2 linked regions of the Homo sapiens genome follow. The protein of the gene in region 1 purifies or fractionates together with the protein of each later gene. This does not show direct contact. Each region holds a gene or a part of one and is shown on either strand. Other genes may lie near its edges.

Region 1 (4,897 bases):
CAAGCCCAGGTGCCAGCCTGAGGCAGCCACTTCGGCCAGGTCACACGACCGGGGCCAGCACCACTTCCTTTAAAGATGAACTCTGAACTTTGGAGAGTGAGCTACAGAGCCGAGCAATATTTATGGATGCAACACGCATGGTCAACCCTCAGGGGAAAACTGTTACCTAAAGTATTTTTATAAATATAAGCCTTTTATACTGATTATGTCTTTTATATTTGTATCGATGTTTTATTATTTCTATTAAATAGTTATATAATTCACTCAAGCACTGATATCTGGCCTAAAATCTTGGAAGTACATGTCCATGAATACAAATTTTAAAGGATGAAAATCTTACCGTACTTTGGAACTTGCTGTTTAAAAAGACAGATGAAATAAGTTGAAGAAACCTCATGTAATGAATCCACCAGGCTGGCAGTGGTGCATATAAACTGTGGGTGTGGCAAGACCCCGAAGACATTTCACATCTTTATCGCCTCGATCAAGTGTGGAGTCACATGCTAATGTGTGCTAAAGAACTGTAAGTGTTTTTTCATATGTACTTTTCATTGGAAGATTCCCAACAAGAATTTGGATGGAAAACCTGATCCCTAGCAAGAAGTCTGCTCTGTATCACCTTTATATAGCAGACATGTCACCCTGCTTCTACACAGATGATGGATGAAAGCTTGGAGCAATGCCATGTGGTCATCTGGTAAACCTCAGAATGGCGTCTCATCCTGGACATCCTGCATCAGAGTTCACACACCACAAGGACTAAATCCTTGTCCCCTAAGCAAAGAATTGGGTCTGAATGCTGTGAGGGATTGCCTTTTTGTGGTAATTTTCATTGAGAGATCTTCATTTCCCCTACCACCCTGGCTGTCCCAGCTAGTGGTGATTGCAGATTCCTTCCCAGAGAGGACATTTAACCGTTTTAAAAAAAATGTCTTAGATTGGGTTCCCAAGAAGCAGTCCCTGAAACAAGGATTTGTGTGCAAGTAACTTATTAAGGAAGTATTCCCAGGGGATACCAGTAAGAGAGTGGGGGAAGCAGGACAAGGAAGGAGACAAAGCCAGGCAAATGTTTGTCATTTCAGGGAGAGCTCCATGAAGTTTAGCCTCAGCCTGATCAGGGGAACTCCGGAGGAAAAGTTAGGCCTCAGAGGTGTCCCAACCTGAATCAAGGGGCTGGCTGCACCCAGAGGAGATGTAAACGTTTTATTCTCAATTCCTGCTGGCGTAATGGCTCCAGTAGCTCAGGACAGTCCTCTAAAGGACAACCACAGATGCATCCTCAGCCAGGGGAGACACAGGGAAATGATGCAAAAGAAATGATGCAAAGGATCTGAGCAGAACACTGCCCCTCCCCACCCCCTGAATGTGTGAGTGCTGAGTTACGGCCTTCAGTATCCAAGCTCTCTGTTTGACAGTAGATATATTGTCAGATGCACTGTGCTGCTTAGTTTTGAGTGCAGTGTGATTTTCTGAAAGGGCAATGAGATGATGGATGTAGCATGCTCAGCACTGACCTGGCCCATAGTGATCACTCAATAACTGTTAACAGCTATGGCTGCTATTCCTACTGATGGATAACCATCTAATAAGACAGAAAACATGGGGCTAAGAGCAGGGTCTAACGGAGTCTTAATGGCTTATTACAGCCTGCCAAAGTGCCAGCTACATACACATGGCATCCAGTGCGGATGAAACAATCTATAAAACCAAGGGTCTTTCTTATAGCACCTTTTTTACTGGAAGCTAACACGTTGGGAGTCCGTGAACATTGTCAAAAAGACATCAAACTCAACTTCTGGGAAGACAGATTTTTAATACACATACTTGGCTAATACTCACAAACATATCTAAAGTTTTGGCAAAATTATGAGGGTGATGGGTGGGTACTAACCTGGCATGGAGCAGGTGTGTCTTTTGGTTTCTTATGCAGTTGACTCTGCTGCAGGGAGATTACAGATGTAACCTCATGCTTCTCTTCCTGGTGAACATGGGAATAGACCAAAAAAATCAAGGGTCAATGGCATGAACTAAGCTGATCCTGGAAATCAGGGATGTTGCATCTAACTGTGGGATGGAGGCACAGAGGTAGCTACAGGGAGCAGGACGAGGCAAAGAAAGCAGCTGTCACTCAGAGTTCGCTTATGAGTTTTATCAAAAGCAGCAAGAAAAGCAGTCTTGGGTGGGTTTTATCACTTATTAACAGCCATTTATGAGGCCCCTGCTGTGTGTCAGGCACTGTGCAAGGTGCTGGAGGTTCCCCAGAGAACACTTCAGGGACATTTTGCCTCAGGGTGGCAAAATGCAGTGGCATGTGGACTTTTTGAATGGGATGCCATTTGCAGCTTTCCTTTGATGGACTCTTGTTCATAATGCCATGTTTTCTTTAATGAATCATTTAGGATTCTTAGGTGATATTTCTGGAACAGCACCATCAACAGCTTTGGCCACATGCACTTAGAGCAACTAACTTGCCTCCTGCCGGGGTGTAGGTGCGTTGGTGACAGTGTAGAAGGGTGATTCGCAGGCCCATGTTCTGCCCACCAGCAAAGCCCCACTGGAGAAGGGTAGACTCCTGTGGGCAGTCTCAGAGCTGGGACCTATTTGCTTCTGCTTGATTCTGCGTGGGTGGACCCACATGAGCAGCTGTATACCCAGGAGGTCACTAAGACTTTATAAAGGCAGGTTTTAAGAAAACCAGCCTTGGCATCACCACCAGCAGATACTGAAAGCCTCCCCAGGAACCTGTCTGGGGAAGGATGATGCCTCTGCTGGTCTGATCGTGCTGAGTAGCAGGTGGGCTACGGGGACTGGGGAGTTAAGCATTTTGTGCAGTGATAGAGAAGTCAAGCATATCGTTAGCGCTCTCTCAACTTGGGCAGTTCACAAGCTCCTTCCCAGCTCAGAAGCCCTCTCTATGCTCTCAGGGGAAGCAGATGGGGTGGATCAGTACATCTGTGTTACCCTTCCAGAATATTATTTGAAAATTCTACAGTATGTTCTACTTTCTCCCCTTCCTGCTTCCATGGTTTCACTGTGGAATCCTATAAGATATTCTCCTGAGCAGTATTATTTCAGTTTCCTTCAGCTTTTAGTTGAATCTTCAATGTGGTTTTAACCAACTGTTCAGAGAACTGAAATGGTTTTTAAATATGAAAAAGGACCTTTGTAAAAATGGAGTAAAACAGTGCCCCTTTTTTAAAAAAAGTTTTGCTTATGCTTAATTTACATAGGACTCAGGAGAGTTTGGAACATCCTCCAAGTGGGCCATAGAGCTGTCACAAAGAAGAGGCCATGATGTTTAGAAACAAGGGGACACTAGCAGGAGGGGCAGGGTCCACTGGCTTAGTGGCAACTGACAGGCATCCATTCCGAATAACTCAGCACTGAGGTTTCCTCAGGCAGTTCTTTAGGAAAACTGTCAGCATCATGGGTACTCAGAGGTATGGTAGACCTTGTAGAAGATCCACTAGGAAGTCCTCCTTCACCAAATCATGTAGCTACTGCCCTTGAGCCAAAGGCAATGAGGTTTAAAACAAAAACCCAACAGCACTCCTGGGAACATCCTGTTTTCCATGCGGAAGCATAGCAGATCCCCAGACGATCCGTGTGCTGTATGCTACCTGTTGAACCCTAGCATGGTGGCTTTTTAAAAGGTTATTTATGACTTTTATTTTTGGGTAAGGCATTATGGCCAGGTGCATGCAGTTATGTCTGGGTTACGTGTGAAACGTACATCTGGTGAACTGTATACTTGGCTCAAACTTCTCAAAATTTAGAGGTGCTGGAAAGGATTGTCACTTGGAGCCTTTAGTAGACAAAAGGCAGAAAGTGAGCATCATTTCAGAAATGCTTTAGTATGCACACTTTTAGCTGATATTTTGATATATAGAATAATAATATACACAGTGGAGAATATTCAAAGAGTGGCTGAAGGGAGAATACAGAGCCAGTAGGGCCAAAATGAAACTTCTAGGATGTCTTCTGAATTTTCAGCACATGGGGGGAATAAGTGAACAAATTTCCCAACATCGTGCAATGCTTTATAGCACAATGATCTAGATTTCAGACTGTGTTAAGGTTTTTTCTTTGTTGATGTTGTTGTTTTAATTCTAATGTGCACGGTGTGACTGGCAGAGTGAGTTTAAAAGCTTTACGAGTGATTAATTGCTTGGCAGGCACCCACGCTATCTGCATTTCCAGAACTTTACTGATGCATCCATGTACATTTCCACTGAGGAATTTTGGTGGGTGGGGGGAGGTTGTGCTGCCTCACAATGTCACGTGTATTAAAGTCTAAGCAGTCACTTCTGATTCACTTGCACTGTTTGGGAAATGTCAGGTTTACAAAAACATACATGTTTGGAATAAAAAATGGCTGCAAACAATTCAGAAGTTCAATCTGTAATTTACTTGCTAATAAGAACTTTTTAAAGTGTTGAAGCTAGGGTTTCAATGTAATACAACATGAGCATTAAAGAGAACATCAAGGTCCATCTAATTCACATGAACAACCCACCTGATGTGGCTGAACTGTCTGCAGTCCTTGGCCTCCACACAAGAGGTACCACCTCCTCTCTGCATCACCCTGACTCCCCTGGCCCAGGGCTACACCTAGGTTCTTGATCTTGAGATAAATGTGCCCAAATTAAATGGTATGGATTCCTTATTATCAGTAGACTTCTTTCACATGTGCCTGCCAGTTACTAAGCATTTTTCCAGAAGCATTTTGATAACATTCTTACACATTTACAAATATTGTATTCTCTTAGGTTTTCACTCTCCTTCATCTGTCTATTAATAGTTATGTTCTTGTTCATATTCCACATGCTGTTCATTTATGTGTTTTTTTTTCCCTAGACAAGACTGTTACCAGATAGGGGTTCCAATCCAGACACCA
Region 2 (7,366 bases), on another chromosome or scaffold:
TTGGGGGTGTTAGCACTGCCCCGCCACATGAGGGGTCAAAAGGTGAGGGTCTCAGGTTTGTGTGGTGCTGGGGAGGGGGCAGGCGGCCTCGGTGTCCCAGCCTTAGCCAGCTGTGCTGGCAGTGAGTTCCCGACCCCACCTAGCTACCTGCCACTTCCCTCCCCGAGCCAGTGAATCACCGGCTCAGCCACTAGCACCTGAGCCAGCCTGGCTGGGCCCTGGGAGGGGTAGTTGGGCTGGCTGGGGCAGGGAGGCAGCAGCATGTCCCCCATCCCCACCTCCTCGCACTCCAGCCCTGTGTTCCCCTATACCTCCTCCACCCCAGGGAGCCTTGCCAGCATGCTGGCTTCAGTAGCCATCTAGAGGAGCCTCACACTGTCGGAGCCGGGGAGGTGGGGCAGGCGCAAGAGACTACTGGGCACCCTAACATTCTCCAGAGTTGAGGGTTCAAAGCCCAGATTGGGCTCTGACTTGCTCTGAGTCACATGGTCAGGGGTGGAGGGGAAACCTTGCTTCCACCCCAGGGCTTTTTCTGTGCATTCGCCCTGCAGCCTCCATAGAGCACCTGCTGTGTGCATGCACTCACTGTGCGGAGGTCACAAGGTCAAGCAGACCTAAAAGAGGGCAGATTGGTCCAAGCCTTATGAGCACAGTGCCTTATGGGGGATCATTATGCTGGGGCAGGAGAAGCCTTGAACTGGGTCAAAGGATGGGCCCCCCCAGGCAAAGGGACAGTGCTGGTGAAGGCACAGCAGTCTGGAAGAACTCTGTGGCCAAGACACCCTGGTTTCATCTTTCTCCATCAGAAAGATGATGGACTTGACCTTGGTCAAGTTACTCAACCTCTCTGTGCCTGAGGTTCCTCACTTGTAAAGCGGGATTTTAATAAAAATATCTATGCCTTAGGGCTATTGTGAGCATTAATTGAATTTATCCATCTGAAACGTCCAGTGCAGGCCTGGTGCAGGGTCGGCACCCAGCACGTGTTAGTTTTTATCCCATTAGAGGGCTAGTGCCTTGAAGGCAGGGGCTTGTTGGTTCTGTCTACAGTGACATCTCCAGTGCCTAGAACAGTCCTGGCATACAGTAAGTGCTCAGTAAGTTCATGTCAAACGAGTGGATCGCACGTGAGGGGAGAGCCAACAGGGCCCTGAGGACGGAGCTGCCCCAGGCCAGGAGCGCACTGCTGGGGAGCCTGCCTGGACAGTGGGAGCTGCAGGTGCTGGGCCCTGGGCGCCCCTCCTCAGGTCCCGCCTCCTGGGATGGCTGCTCCCACCGGGAGCTGCACACTCCACCCTGGGTGGGGCTCAGGTGCCCCAGGGAGGACAGGTCACTCAGCGAGAGTGTTAGCTGAGAGTCTTAACCACTGTCTTTCCCGTCCGCCCAGACACCCAGCCTCGGTGTCTGTTGGTGCCTTGATCCCTATCGGGGTAATGGGCACCCCCACTCCCACACCAGCCTTTCATCCCTGAGGTCATCTCGACACCCTGGACCCAGGCGGGCTGCTGCCTCCTCTGCAGACGAGCTGAAGCCAGTGAGTGGGAAGAACACCGCCCAATCCATCCACAGATTGCTGAGGCTGGGCTCCAGAGAGCCGGGTGGTCCAAGGGAGGCCCAGTGCCCCCTGCACCACACCCACTGGAAAAGGAAGCCCCAGCTCTATTTTGTTTTAACAGACAGGGTCTTGCTCTGTCACCCAGGCTAGAGGGCAGTGGAGTGATCACGGCTCACTGCAGCCTCGACTTCCCGGGCTCAAGTGATCCTCTCACCTCAGCCTCCCAAGTAGCTCTGACTACAGGCATGCGCCACTACATCCAGATAATTTTTGTATATTTTTTGTAGAGACGGGATTTCATCATGTTGCCCAGGCTGGTCTCGAACTCCCGGGCTCAAGTGATCTACCCGCCTCGGCCTCCCAAAGTTGTAGGATTGCAGGCGTGAGGTATTGCGCCAGGATTTTTTTTTTTTTTTTTTTTAAGACAGAGTCTCAGTCTGTCACCCAGGCGGGAGCGCAGGGGTGTGATCATGGCTCACTGCAGCCTCAAACTCCTGGGCTCAAGCAATAGGCACGAGCCACCATGCCTGGCTATTTTTTATTTTTATTTTTTTACAGAAACAAGATCTCCCTATGTTGTCCAGGCTGGTCTCGAGCTCCTGGGCTCAAGGAATCCTCCCGCATTGGCCTCCTGAAGTTCGGGGATTATAGGCGTGAGCCACGGCGCCCGGCCATGAACCCCTAACTCTTCAATACAACAAGGCCCTGGGTGAGAACTCTGGGGAGGGCTGTGGCTTAGGCAGGAGGCAGCACAGCCCCTGCATCCCTACCCCAGGGATCCCACCCCGTCCCCTCAGTCCTCATGCCCTGTACCCAGGCTCCAGGGGTCATCCCAGCCAAGTAGAGCCTTGGGGCAGAGCTGCAGTCAGGCAGCCAGGCTCTCCTGTCTCCCAGGCTCTCCTGTCTCCCAGGCTCTCCTGTCTCCCAGCCTCTGGCAGAGGAGGGCCTCCGTGCAGGCTCCTGTCCAGCACTTCTCCCGCGAAGCGGCCTCAATCCGTGGCCCTCAGGCCCCCTTAGAGGATGTAGGGAGCCCCAGGTCATCCCCTGCCTCCTGCCAGGGCTGAAGTTCGGCCTGGGCCTGCGGCTCCCAAGGCAGGGAGAGAGTCCATCCCTGGGCCCTTTGGCCTCAGGACACCAAATGCCAGCACGGGGCTGGTCCTGGGCTCTGGGCCGCCGCCGCCGCCAGGTGGCTCAAGGACCTGGGCCTGGCACCACCCCCACCCCAGTTCCCCGGCTCCCCATCCCCCAGTCCCACTTACCGGCTGTGCCTGCTGGGGGAGCCTTTGGGGGACCCCTTGGCGGGGGAGCCCTTGGGGGACCCCTTCCCCTGGGAGCCTTTGCTCAGCCCCTTGAACATGGTCGTAAAGGCAAGTGCTGGCTCAGGCTGGGCTTGGCTGGCGAAAGACGGCAGGAGGGCAGGTGGGAGGCAGCGGGCGTCCTCACTGGCTGGTCAGCTAAGTCTGGCGAGGTGGGGCGGCTGGGCACTGGGGAAGGGAGTTTCTGGGAGGCCCCTCCTTGCAGGTGAGGCAGCGGGCGGGCGGCCGGGTCCCAGGCCTGACGCGCATGCACCCACAACGGCCACACTCATGCCTCCTCCTGCACAACCAGTCTGGGAGGAAAGGGCACAGCCCTGAGGGCGGGGCCGAGCCTGCCCGACTCCCACAGAAGGTTTGGACTTGTTACACCCACATGCCTAGGGGAGCGCAGCGGCGATCACACCCAGATAGGGAAGGAGTTGGGCCAGGACAGACAGGGCTGGAGACAGACGTGCACATGCAGGTGCAGGCTCAGCGGAGAGGCCCCAGCCCCGGAGCTCAGGATTAATAAACACCTCCAGCCAGCTCAGAGGACCTGCTGCCAGGCAGGCCCCCACCCACAGCTCTCAATCCCCCAGGAGAGGAGGGGGTGTCCTGCCAGCCCAGGGCCTGACTCTCTGTTCTCCACTGACATGATGGGGCAGTCAGGGGACGTTCACTCCAGACAACTGGCACAAGGTCCATTTTTTTTTTTTTTAAGAGACAAAGTCTCGCTCTGTCACCCAGGCTGGAGTGCAATGGCATGATCTCGGCTCACTGCAACCTCTACCTCCCGGGTTCAAGCGATTCTCCTGCCTCAGCCTCCTGAGTAGCTGGGATTACAGGTGCCCGTCACCACGCCCAGAAAATTTTTGTATTTTTAGCAGAGAAGGGGCTTCACCATGTTGGCCAGGCTGGTCTCGAACTCCTGACCTCAAGTGATCCACCCGCCTCGGCCTCCCAAAATGCTGGGATCACAGGCATGAGCCACCACGCCTGGCCCCATTTTATAAAGTGTGCACAGTGCAGCAGCACCAGGGCTGGCTTCAGGCGCCAGTAAGCCTGGGCTCTGGCTGAGGCCCGGGAGCCTGATGCACTTGGCTTTTCCTACCTGCCTCTTCCCCCACCCAGAAATGGCCCCTGGTGGCTTTTATGAAGTCAGATTGAGTGGCAGACAGTGATGCCAGCTTATTGGTCTTTTCCTCACACTGGGTACCAGGGCTGCTGCCTTTTCCTTCTGTGGTGGCCCTGAGCGTCTTCAAGAAAGAGGCGATGGCACCCCCCTTTCCAGGCGCTCATTTCACTGGCCCAGCGTAACAGGCCCCTTCTGCGGGGTGGCGTCGCTTTCCAGGTCATTCCTGAAACCCCCGTGGTTTTAGTGGAAGGAGGGCTTGAGGGGGAGCCAGGGGATGGAACAGACTGACTGGGTGACATCACCTGGACATCCTGGCAGGCCTCGCTGAGGACAAAGCACAGCCTGGCAGGAGAGAAAGATCCCAGCAGACGGGGGAGACCAGGGACCGACGCCTGATACTGGCCTCAGGCCCCCATGGGATAGAAAAGTCCTGCGCCCTTTTTGGCTGAATTTCATGGGAAGTCCCTGAACTCGGCCGTGGAGAGGGGATGCAGGACACCCCCATTCCTAGAGGTGGAGGAGCTGACAGGGGCAGTAGGGGTGGGGAGGGCAGTGGCAGCCCCTGACAGCAATGAGGAAACAAAGAGGTCTCCAGTGTCCTTGGCTCCCAGCCCGTGTCTTGAGTGAGATGGCACCAGGGATGACTGGCCACTCAGCCTCTGCCCCAGCCTGCTCCCACTTTATTCCTGGTGACACTTGTCTTCTAGCCACTCATTGCACACCTGCAATCAGCTGTCTTCAGAAAGGAGCCGTTTGTGTGAATGACTACGGGGGCCAACGCCAGCCTCACCCCTGGCCTCCCTGACTCGCCTTTTTCTTTTCTTTCTTTTTTTTTTGAGACTGAGTCTCGCTCTGTCTCCCAGGCTGGAGTGCAGTGGCGCCATCTCGGCTCACTGCAACCCCTGCCTCCCAGGTTCAAGTGATTCTCCTGTCTCAGCCTCCCGAGTAGCTGGGATTACAGGCGCCCGCCACCACGCGCGACTAATTTTTTGTATTTTTAGTAGAGACAGGGTTTCACCACGTTGGCCAGGCTGGTCTCGAACTCCTGACCTCAGGTGATTCGCCCACCTCAGCCTCCCAAAGTGCTGGGATTACAGGCATCAGCCACTGAGCCCGCCTGCTTCACCTTTGAGCTTGGCCCCTCCCTGGGAGGTGGCAGTCATTGGAAGTGGGGCCCTGGGGAGAGGTGTCCAGACTCCAGACAGAGAGCAGCCGGGTGAGGCCCCTGAGCTGTGCAGGGGGAGGTGCCCTGGGCGGAGGGCAGCGAGTCTGAGGTCTGGAACACTCGAGCTTCCTCCCCTCTTCAGAAGCCCTCCAGGAAGGAAATGAGCACTGCAGGGGGCCCTCACACGCCCCGGAGATTAAGGGCTAACTGATTTACTGCAAGAAAAACAAGAGCTGACTTCCTGGCGTGATCTTCTCATGCTGGATCAAATCAGGCCCCGCTCCTCTGATAAGGGCTGCCAGGCGGCAGGCAGGAACACCCTGAGTCCTGAGGCGTCCTCTCACGTGGGATGCTCCTGTCAGATGGCAGCAACCCTGGCCCCAGAAGAAAACAGGAGAAAGGACAGGGACACAGAGTGAGGCATGGCTGTCTTTGTGCTTCACCTCTGGCCTCACCCTTTGGAGAGAAAGGAGCCCTTTATCTAAAAGGTCAAGATGGGGCTGACTGCCTGGGTCAAGACCCTCAGCGTCCGTTTCTGCAACCACAACTCCTGCTGTGTGTGGCTGTAGCGCATTTGAAGGTGCCCGGACCGAAGTGAGATGTGTTATATGTGCAAAATTCACACCAGATTTCAAAGACGTACTATGGAAAAAGAATGTAAAACGACCAGCTGCGGTGGCTCATGCCTGTAATCCCAGCACTTTGGGGGGCCAAGGTGGGCGGATCACGAGGTCAGGAGTTCAAGACCAGCCTGACCAACATGGTGAAACCTCGTCTCTACTAAAAATACAAAAATTAGCTGGGCGTAGTGGCGCGTGCCTGTAATCCCAGCTACTCGGGAGGCTGAGGCAGAAGAATCACTTGAATCTTGGAGGCGGAGATTGCAGTGAGCCGAGATCGCGCCACTGCACTCCAGCATAGGAGACAGAGCGAAACTCGATCTAAAAAAAAAAAAAAAAAAAGAAAAAAAGAATGTAAAGCATCTCATTAATTTTTCTATTGATTACATATTGAAATATTTTGGATATGTTGAATTAAATGAAATGTATTTTTAGTTTTAGTTTTTTTCTTTTTGAGACAGAGTCTTGCTCTGTCGCCCAGGCTGGAGTGCAGTGGCACAATCTCGGCCCACTGCAACCTCCACCTCCCAGGTTCAAGTGATTCTCCTACTTCAGCCTCCCGAGTAGCTGGGACTACAGGCGCGCGCCACCACACCCGGCTAATTTTTGTATTTTTAGTAGAGATGAGGTTTCACCATGTTGGTCAGGCTGATCTCGAACTCCTGACCTCATGATCCGGGGTTACAGGCATATTTTAAATTTTGACCTGTTGCTTTTTACTCTTTAAAATGTGGCTACTGATAAATTTAAAGTGACAAATGAAGCTTGCATTTGGGGCTCATCAGGATTCCTTCAGACAGCTCTGGCCTGGAAGTTAGATAGGATGCCCCAACCTTCAACCCTCCTAAGCCCTGGCTTCTGCCATGTCTCTTTGCTTGCAGTTAAAAAAAACTTTCTTTTGGCGAGGTGGGGTGGCTCATGCCTGTAATCCCAGCACTTTGGGAGGCCAAGGCGGGCAGATCACCTGAGGTCAGGAGTTTGAGACCAGCCTGACCAACATGGAGAAACCCCGTCTCTACTAAAAATACAAAATAACAAAACCAGGCATGGGCGTGGTGGCACATGCCTGTAATCCCAGCTACTTGTGAGGCTGAGGCAGGAGAATTGCTTGAACCCAGGAGGTGGAGGTTGCGGTGAGCCGAGATCGCGCCATTGCACAAGAGCGAAACTCCACCTCAAAAAAAAAAAAAAAAAAAAAAATATATATATATATATATATATATATATATATTTTTTTTTTTTTTTTTTTGGCCGGGCAGTGGCTCACGCTTGTAATCCCAGCACTTTGGGAGGCCGAGGAGGGCGGATCACTTGAAGTCAGGAGTTCGAGACCAGCCTGGCCAACATGGTGAAACCCCATTTCTACTAAAAATACAAAAATTAGCCAGGCGTTGTGGTGGGTGCCTGTAATCCCAGCTACCTGGGAGGCTGAGGCAGTAGAATTGCTTGAACCCAGTAGGTGGAGGTGAGTCAAAATTGCGCCACTACATTCCATCCTGGGTGACGTGGGTGACAGAGTGAGACTTCGTCTCAAAAAAAAACCAAAATCCCGTCTCTACTAAAACTACAAAAACAAAAAAATTAGCCAGGCATCGT

What was found.
Region 2: the proteins of ITGA9 (region 1) and EVPL purify together in Homo sapiens (affinity purification with mass spectrometry; 2 studies listed by BioGRID and IntAct, with this or other methods). This does not show direct contact.

The regions. Positions count from the first base shown.
Region 1 is NC_000003.12:37,819,123-37,824,019, forward strand, and holds the end of ITGA9 (integrin alpha-9 precursor), read left to right. Parts: 3' UTR 1-4,385; downstream 4,386-4,897. UniProt on the Homo sapiens protein: Integrin alpha-9/beta-1 (ITGA9:ITGB1) is a receptor for VCAM1, cytotactin and osteopontin. It recognizes the sequence A-E-I-D-G-I-E-L in cytotactin. ITGA9:ITGB1 may play a crucial role in SVEP1/polydom-mediated myoblast cell adhesion.
Region 2 is NC_000017.11:76,024,287-76,031,652, forward strand, and holds the start of EVPL (envoplakin), read right to left. Parts: upstream 3,021-7,366; 5' UTR 2,913-3,020; coding exon 2,815-2,912; intron 1-2,814. UniProt on the Homo sapiens protein: Component of the cornified envelope of keratinocytes. May link the cornified envelope to desmosomes and intermediate filaments.